2 separate regions of the Homo sapiens genome follow, and region 2 is linked to region 1. The links come from fine-mapping of genetic effects on gene expression. A gene starts in region 1. The other region holds a variant in brackets. All regions are shown on one strand. Distances are between the middles of the regions. Region 1 holds the start of GLE1 (GLE1 RNA export mediator). Region 2 has its middle 7.2 kb from the start of ODF2.

Region 1 (4,000 bases):
GAGACACAGTCTCACTCTGTCACCCAGGCTTGAGTGCAGCAGCACAATCTCGGCTCACTGCAACCTCTGCTTCCAGGGTTCAAGCAATTCTCATGCCTCAGTCTCCCGAGTAGCTGGGATTACAGGCATGCACCACCATGCTCGGCTAATTTTGTATTTTTAGTAGAGATGCGGTTTCACCATGTTGGCCAGGCTGGTCGCGAACTCTTGACCTCAAGTGATCCGTCCCCCTCGGCCTCCCAACGTGCTGGGATTACGGGCCTGAGCCACCACGCCTAGCCTTGCATGTGATTATTTTGATACAAGCTTACAAAATCTGGGACATTTAAAATAAAATAAATAAATAATAAAAGTAATGGATTACAACTCACTGAATAAAATAGAAAGCACCTCCTTACAGTAGAATGCCAACTAACAAATGCAGAAGGAATAGCGGATATAAAGAAACAGGATCTGGCAACGTCATAGAGGTATCGATTCATGTGGAAAACATCAATGAATGCTAAAGCCATGGAGGATTAAGGTTTGCCCAGAAAAAAGGATACTGGTATTATTACTTCCCAACAATTACTAAGGGAAAAATGACGAATTTTAAACGGAGAGACCAGGCAGATAATAACGTAACCAGGTGATCAAGATTAGCATCACCAGTGTTGGGATGGGTTGACATCTGTGTGCCTCCTCATGTGACTTACTGAGAAAGCCATGGCATCATTTCTGTGGTATTCCTGCCAAGAATGCTTAACCTTGGTCTGGTGGTTTGAAAGCACATATGCTGGCAGTCAACCTACAGAATGTAAGGTCTGTATTTTTCAAAACTGTCAACAACATAAAAGACAGGGAAATACTTTAGGATTGTTTCCCAAGAAGTCTGAGGATGCAGGACAACGCCTTATCTGTAGCTAACTAGCAGCGACTCGGGAATGGGAGCTCGGCCTTAACTCTCCACATCCCTCCACTTCTCGCGCAGAGCTTTGCAAATGCTAGGTACGGTGACCACGCCCCCATTCACTTTCCAGGTCTGCCAAATCAATCTAAAAATTTGGTCATTTCACTAGTAGCAATGGATTAGGTCGTGTCAATCGTTCGTCGCAAACTCTAGAGCTCCCAGCACATGAGACATACAGTAAGTTAACTGAACCTGGGGCCGAGATTGCTTTGACAACAGCAGAACGGAGAAGGCGCCCAACTGGCGGAGGGTAGCAATGAAGCCTTCAGAGCGCGGGGCACCTGTGAAGTCAGGGGAGCTCCCCGAAACGCTAAAATAGGCTGAAGAGGACAGAAACCCCAGGACAGAGGGATGTACACACAGAAGTCAAGAAATAAATGCAGGTTGTTAGACTGCACGGGTTCCCGGGAGCAGAACGTGCCAACGGCTAGGGAGAAGGTTTCGGTCGCGAGGGGCCGGAAAGGCCTACGTCCTCCGGGGCCACCGCTCACCTCGCGCCGCAGCAGCCAGTCGCGGTAGTAGCAAAGGCGACCTTTGTCGGAACTGCGTAGGGCCTTCAAGGTCTCCCAGCAGCGACCCTCAGACGGCATGGTTGGCTAAGGGGCAGCTTCTCTGACGCCCCCCTTCTGACCAAACAAGCCCTCGAATCAGCCGCCGGGAAGGCCACACAGGCTTCTGCTTCCGGGACGCGCGCGCAGCACAGCCCCGCCCCTAACGCCTGCACGCCCCACCTCCGGCGACGCTCCCGCGTTCCCGCCCTCCCACCAGTGCGCCTGCGCGCAGGGCTTGGCTGTCGGGGCACGTTCCGCAGAGGTAACCACCGCTCCCAATCCCCGGGGCTGCTGAAAATTTGTCTGTGCCTTGAGACTGTGCAGAAACTGGAACCCTCATACACTGCTCATGGGACTGTAAAATGAAGCACCTGCTGTGGAAGACAGTCTGGCAGTTCCTCAAAAGGTTAAACAATTACCATTTGACCCAGCAATTCTCCTAGGTAAATATATATATATATATAAAATACGCCAAAGAAATGAAACCTATGTATATATAAAAACTTGTCCATGAATGTTCACAGCAGTGTTATTCATAATAGCCAAAAAGTGAAAGCAACCCAAACGTCCATCCATTGGTGAATGGATAAATAAAATATAGTACTATGTGCGCGGTTCCCGAGTTCCCCCGCTTTCTGTGCACTGACCAAGTATCAGAGTGCCTTGACCGCCCTGTGACCCAGCCAGCTGCAAGTTTTTTCCTGCAGACTTGCAACCAAACACGGGCCTTGCATATCCCTAGGCACTAAGGATATCTAGGTTATTGCCCAAAACGCTGAAACTGACCCCTGCTTTTAGCCAAATTCCATAAACCCTCATATAAACTTCATACCCTGACCCCTCGCTGGGGATGTACCTAGGTGAAACACCGCTTCTCTCTGTCTGTCGCGAGAATTGCTGCAGCCCACTCTGTAAGCTTCCCTAATAAATGTTTTGGGTTTAATGCTGCTTTTTTGAGACAGAGTCTTGCTCTGTCCCCCAGGCTGGAGTACAGTGGCTCGATCTCGGCTCACTGCAACCTCCGCCTCCCGGGTTCAAGCGATTCTCCTGCCTCAGCTCCCCGTGTAGCTGGGACTACACGCGCCAGCCACCACGCCCAGCTATTTTGTATTTTTAGCAGAGGCGGGGTTTCACCATGTTGGTCAGGCTGGTCTCGAACTCCTGACCTCAGTTGATCCACCCACCTCGACCTCCCAAAGCGTTGGGATTACAGGCATGAGCCACTGCGCCCGGCCATAGTGCTTCTTTGGAATCCCAACCAGCCCTGTTTGGCAGGAGGAAACACCACATCTATATAATGGAATGTTATGGGGCCATAAAAATAAAGTGCTGATGATACGCTGCAACATCAATCTTGAAAGCATTATGCTGAGAGAAGCCAGTCATGAATGGCCACATGTTGGACAATTCCACTTATGTGAAATATCCAGAAGAGACAAATCTATAGAGCCAGAGAAACTTTATGACTAGTTGCCAGGGGCTGGGGGAGGGGAATGGGGAGTGACTGCTAATGGGTATGGCGTTTCTTTTTTGGGAGTGATGAAATTGGTTGGCTGGGTGCCGTAATCCCAGCACTTTGGAAGGCCAAGGTGGGCAGATCACCTGAGGTCAGGAGTTTCAGACAAGCCTGGGCAACATGGCAAAACCCTGTCTCTACAAAAAATACAAAAATTAGCCAGGCAAAGTGCCATGCACCTATAGTCCCCACAGGCTGATGCAGGAGGATCCCTTGAACTCTGGAGGCAGAGGCTGCAGTGAGCCGAGATGGTGCCACTGCACTGTAGCCTGGGTGACAGAGAGAGACTCCATTTCGAAAAAAGAAAAAACTAGGTCTAGAATTAGATAATGGTGATGGCTACACAACTTGGTGAATATACTACAAACCATTGAATTATATATACACTTTATCTTTTCGAGACAGAATCTCGCCGTGTTGCCCAGGCAGGAGTGCAGTGGCGTGATCTTGGATCACTGCAACCTCCACCTCCTGGGTTCAAGTGATTCTCCTGCCTCAACCTACCAAGTAGCTGGGACTACAGGCGTCCACCACCACTCCCGGCTAATTTTTGTATTTTTAGTAGAGACAGGGTTTCACCATGTTGGCCAGGCTGGTCTCGAACTCCTGACCTCAGGTGATCCACCCGCCTCGGCCTCCCAAAGTGCTGGGATTACAGGTGTGAGTGACCACGCCTGGCCTATATTTACACTTTAAAAGGGTGAATTCTAGGCCAGGTATGGTGGCTCATGCTTGTAATCCCAGCAGTTTGGGAGGCCAAGGTAGGAGGATGGCTTGAGCCCAGGAGTTTGAGACCAACCTGGACAACATGATGAGACCTGCCTCTACCAAAAAAAAAAAAAATCCAAAAATTAGCCAGGCATGGTGGCATGCACCTGTGCTCCCAGCTACTCAGAAGGCTGAGGCAGGAGATCGCTTAAACCCAGGAGGCTGAGGCTGTAGTGAGCCATCATTGTGCCACTGCTCACCAGCTTGGATGACAGA
Region 2 (4,522 bases), 56 kb after region 1:
CCAGGCCAAGTTCAGATGCTCCCTCCTCCATGAGGCCTGCGGTGGCTCCCACTTCTCAGGATGCACTGATGGCTCCCTCCTGGGTATGGGTCCCAATATCCCTGCTGTAAGCACTCGTGTGTGTACGGAAATCTTGTGCCACCTCCTACTGGGTGCTCTCTTAAGGCAAGGGCCACTTCTTCATGTCCCACAGAATCCAGCACAAAATAGATGCTCTGAGAGTTTCACTTTAGAAGTCCAATCAAGGATCAAATAAACTTTAAAGACTTCTTTTGGGGAGCCAGGCACAGTGTGGCTCATGCCTGTAATCCTAGCACTTTGGGAGACTGAGCTGGGCTTGAGCCCAGGAGTTCAAGACCAGCCTGGGCAACATTGTGTCTCTACAAAAAATACAAAACTTAAAGCTGGGTCCGGTGGCTCACGCCTGTAATCTCAGCACTTTGGGAGGCTGAGGCGGGCAGATCACGAAGTCAGGAGATCGAGACCATCCTGGCTAACACGGTGAAACACCGTCTCTACTAAAAATACAAAAAAATTAGCTGGTTGTGGTGGTGGGCACCTGTAGTCCCAGCTACTCGGGAGGCTGAGGCAAGAGAATGGTATGAACCTGGGAGGCAGAGCTTGCAGCAAGCCGAGATTGCGCCACTGCACTTCAGCCTGGGCAACAGAGCAAGACTCTGTCTCAAAAAAAAAAAAATACAAAACTTAGCTAGACGTGGTGACACTAACCTGTAGTCCCAGCTATTTGGGAGGCTGAGTTAGAAGGATCACCTGAGCCTGGGGAGGTTGAGGCTGCAGTGAGTAGTGATCGTGCCACTGTGCTCCAGCCTGGGTAACAGAGTGAGACCTCATCTCAAAAAAAAAAAAAAAAAAAAAAACTTCTAAAACTTTTAGACTTTTGGGTCTAAAAGTAATGTTAAAAATTTGGGAGCAACCTAAATATGCATCAACAGAGGAATCAATTAACATAGTACATCTATGTTATCTGTATACCAGTTTAAACGCATTAGGTACATCCATAAGTAATAATAGGAGAAGATCCCCAAGACATACCATATGATCCTATGTATGCTAAAACATAAACTGTAGGAGCCAGGCATGGTGACTCACGCCTGTAATCCTAATACTTTGGGAGGCCTAGGTGGGAGGATCACTTGAGGCCAGAAGTTTCAGACCAGCCTGGCCAACATGGTGAAACTCTGTCTCTCCTAGAAATACAAAAATTAGCTGGGTGTGGTGGCACACACCTGTGATCTCAGCTACTGGGGAGGCTGAAGCATGAGAATTGCTTGAATGCAGGAGGTAGAGGTTGCAGTGATCCAAGATCACCACTGCACTCTAGCCTAGGCAAAAGAGTGACACTCTGTTTCAAACAAAAAAAAAGACAGGAAATCTTGTCAAAAGGGTTAGGCCAGTTTATATCCAACCAACAGTTTCTTTTTTTTTTTTTTTTTTTAATATATGTTAACTGCTGTTTTATTGTTATTATTATTTATTAATTAGAGATGGGGTCTTGCTATGTTGCCCAGGCTGGTCACGAACTCCTGAGCTCATGTGATCCTCCTGCTTCAGTCTCCCAAAGTGCTAGGATTACAGACATGAGCCACTGCGCTGGCCTATTTACTGCTGTTGACCTTTTAATGTGTACCTTACAGACTTTTCAAGGCAAATGAAAATATTTTTCACTTAAATCAACTCATATTACACTTACTATTCAACAACCTTTTTCTCTGATTTAACATGGCACAGGTACAGCTGTCTTTCTGTGTTGGAGCCCCAACCAACAGTTTCTGAGAATGCATAAACTCACCCAGTGTTTACTGTGTTATAAACAACAGGAGGGATTTTGCCAGTCTTACAAGCAACGAATATGCCCTCTGCTAGACAAACTATCCCTGCATGTAGAAAACTGAAAGTCTCTCAATTCTAAGAGATTTTTGTTTTGTTTTGTTTTGTTTGAGACAGGGTCTGGCTTTTTCACCCAAGGTAGATAGGCGAATTGCTAGAACCTGGGAGGCGGAGGTTACAATGAGCTGAAATGGCATCACTGTACTCCAGCCTGGGTGACAGAGCAAGACTCTCTCTCAGAAAGAAAAAAAAAAAAAAAGGAAATGTATTGTCTGGCAGTTCTGGAGGCTGGAGTTCAAGATCAAGGTGTCTGCAGGGCTGTGCTCCTTCTGAAGGTTCCAGGGAAGGATGTATTCCCAACCTTGTTCTAACTTCTGGTGGTTCCTTGGCAGCATAACTCCAACCTCCATCTGGTGTTCTGTGTGTGTGCTTGTGTCCAAATTTCCCCTTTTTGTAAGGACATCAGATATACTGGATTAGGGACCCACTCTACTTCAGCAGGGCCCCATCTTAACGGATTACATTTACGATGACCCTATATCCAAATGAGCAGCTGGGTGCAGTGGCTCATGCCTGTAATCCCAGCACTTTGGGAGGTGGAGGCGGGCAG[A/T]TCATGAGGTCAGGAGTTCAAGACCAGCCTGGCCAATATGGCGAAACCCCGTCTCTACTAAAAATACAAAAATTAGCCAGGCATGGTGGCATGAACCTGTAGTCCCAGCTACTCGAGGAGGCTGAGGCAGGAGAATTGCTTGAACCAGGAGGTGGAGGTTGCAGTGAGCTGAGATCGTGCCACTGCACTCCAGCCTGGGCAATAGAGCTAGACTTTGTCTCAAAAAAACAAAACAAAACAAAATAAGGTCACATTCTGAGGTACTGGGGGTAAGAACTTCAACACATGAATTCAGGGAGGATGCAATTCAACCCATAACAGAATGTATAAGTTTAGTTTAAGGATTATAATAAAATAAACACTAACATAGCCAGGACACAGCTTAAGAAAGAAAAGAGGCTGGGCACAGTGGCTCAGGCCTGTAATCCCAGCACTTTGGGAGGTCAAGGAGGGCAGATCACTTGAGTTCAGGAGTTCAAGACCAGCCTGGCCAACATGGTGAAACCTCCATCTCTACTAAAAAAAATACAAAAATTAGCTGAGCATGGTGGCACATGCCTGTAATCCCAGCTACTCAGGAGGCTGAGGCAGGAGAATCTCTTGAATCCAGGAGGCAGAAGTTGCAGTAAGCCTAGATGGCACCACTGCACTCCAGCCTGGGTGACAGAGAGAGATTCTGTCTCAAAAAAGAAAAAAAAAGGAAAGGAAAGAGATTAAAAAATCATTTCAGGCTGGATGTGGTGGCACACACCTATAATCTTAGCACTTTGAGAGCCAAGGAGGGCAGATCACTTGAGCCCAGGAGTTCAAGACCAGTCTAGGCAGCATAATGAGACTTCGTCTCTACAAAAAAATAAAATAAAAAACCCAGCCGTCACAGTGTGTGCCTGTGGTCCCAGCTACTTGGGAGGCTGAGGTGGGAAGATCACCTGAGACTGGGGAGGTGGAAGCTACAGTGAGCTGTGATCAAGCCACTGCACTCCTGCCTGGGCGATAGAATGTTACTGTCTCAAAAAGAAAAAAAAAAAAGTCCAATTTTTTTTTCTTTTTGAGACAGAGTTTCGCTCTTGTTGCCTAGGCTGGAGTGCAATGGCGCGTGCGATCTCAGCTCACCGCAACCACCACCTCCCAGGTTCAAGCGATTCTCCTGCCTCAGCCTCCCAAGTGGCTGGTATTACAGGCATGCGCCACCACGCTCAGCTAATTTTGTATTTTTAGTAGAGACAGGGTTTCTCCATGTTGGTCAGACTGGTCTCGAACTCCCGACCTCAGGTGATCCGCCCACCTTGGCCTCCCAAGGTGCTGGGATTATAGGCATGAGCCACCACGCCTGGCCTAAAAAGGTCCAAATTTTATATCACCTGCAGCTGTGAATAAAGGTTCTCACTATTAGTAGCCATCAAGAATTTCTTAAGAGACTACCATTACAAAGCCTATTTCTCCTGATAAAAAGTTATCAGAAATTGTGTGTAGCTGTTTCAAACATGAAACCTGCCATAAAAAGTTATTTTCATAGAAGCAAGCTCACATTTCACATGTATTTATTTAGCTACAGTGTCTCGTTCTGTCACCTAGGCTGGAGTGCAGTGCTGTGATCATAGCCCATTGCAGCCTTGAACTCCTGGGTTAAAATGATCCTCCCACCTCAGCCTCCCAAGTAGCTGGGACTGCAGGTGCACACCACCACACTCGGCTATTTTTAACTTATTTATTTAGTTAGTTTGAGATGGAGTCTCGCTCTGTCACCCAGGCTGGAGTGCATTGGCGCAATCTCAACTCACTGCAACCTCCACCTCCCAGGTTCAAGTGATTCTCCTGTCTCAGCCTCCCAAGTAGCTGGGATTACATGTGCGTGCCACCATGTCTGGCTAATTTTTGTATTTTTAGTGGAGATGGGGTTTCACCATGTTGGCCAGGCTGGTCTTGAACTTCTGACCTCAAGTGATCTGCCCGCCTTGGCCTCCCAAAGTGCTGGCATTTCAAGAGTGAGCCAGGGCGCCTGGCCCTTGTGCATCCTTCTTGATAAAGAAAGGGAGGTTCCTGGCTGTTATCAGGAGAATGTCA

The links.
Region 2: its variant is fine-mapped to the expression of GLE1 in whole blood (INTERVAL, PIP 0.97).

What each region holds. Positions count from the first base shown.
Region 1 is chr9:128,502,345-128,506,344 of GRCh38, reverse strand. GLE1 (GLE1 RNA export mediator) reads right to left here and starts at 1,626. Exons shown (of 16, transcript NM_001003722.2): 1 at 1,441-1,626. The coding sequence starts at 1,539. RefSeq lists an enhancer at 1,226-1,385 and a silencer at 1,606-1,815.
Region 2 is chr9:128,446,574-128,451,095 of GRCh38, reverse strand. It overlaps the pseudogene LOC100129352. Among named protein-coding and RNA genes, the nearest start is that of ODF2, 7.2 kb to the left of the region's middle. The variant A/T (reference allele first, on the strand shown) is at 2,459.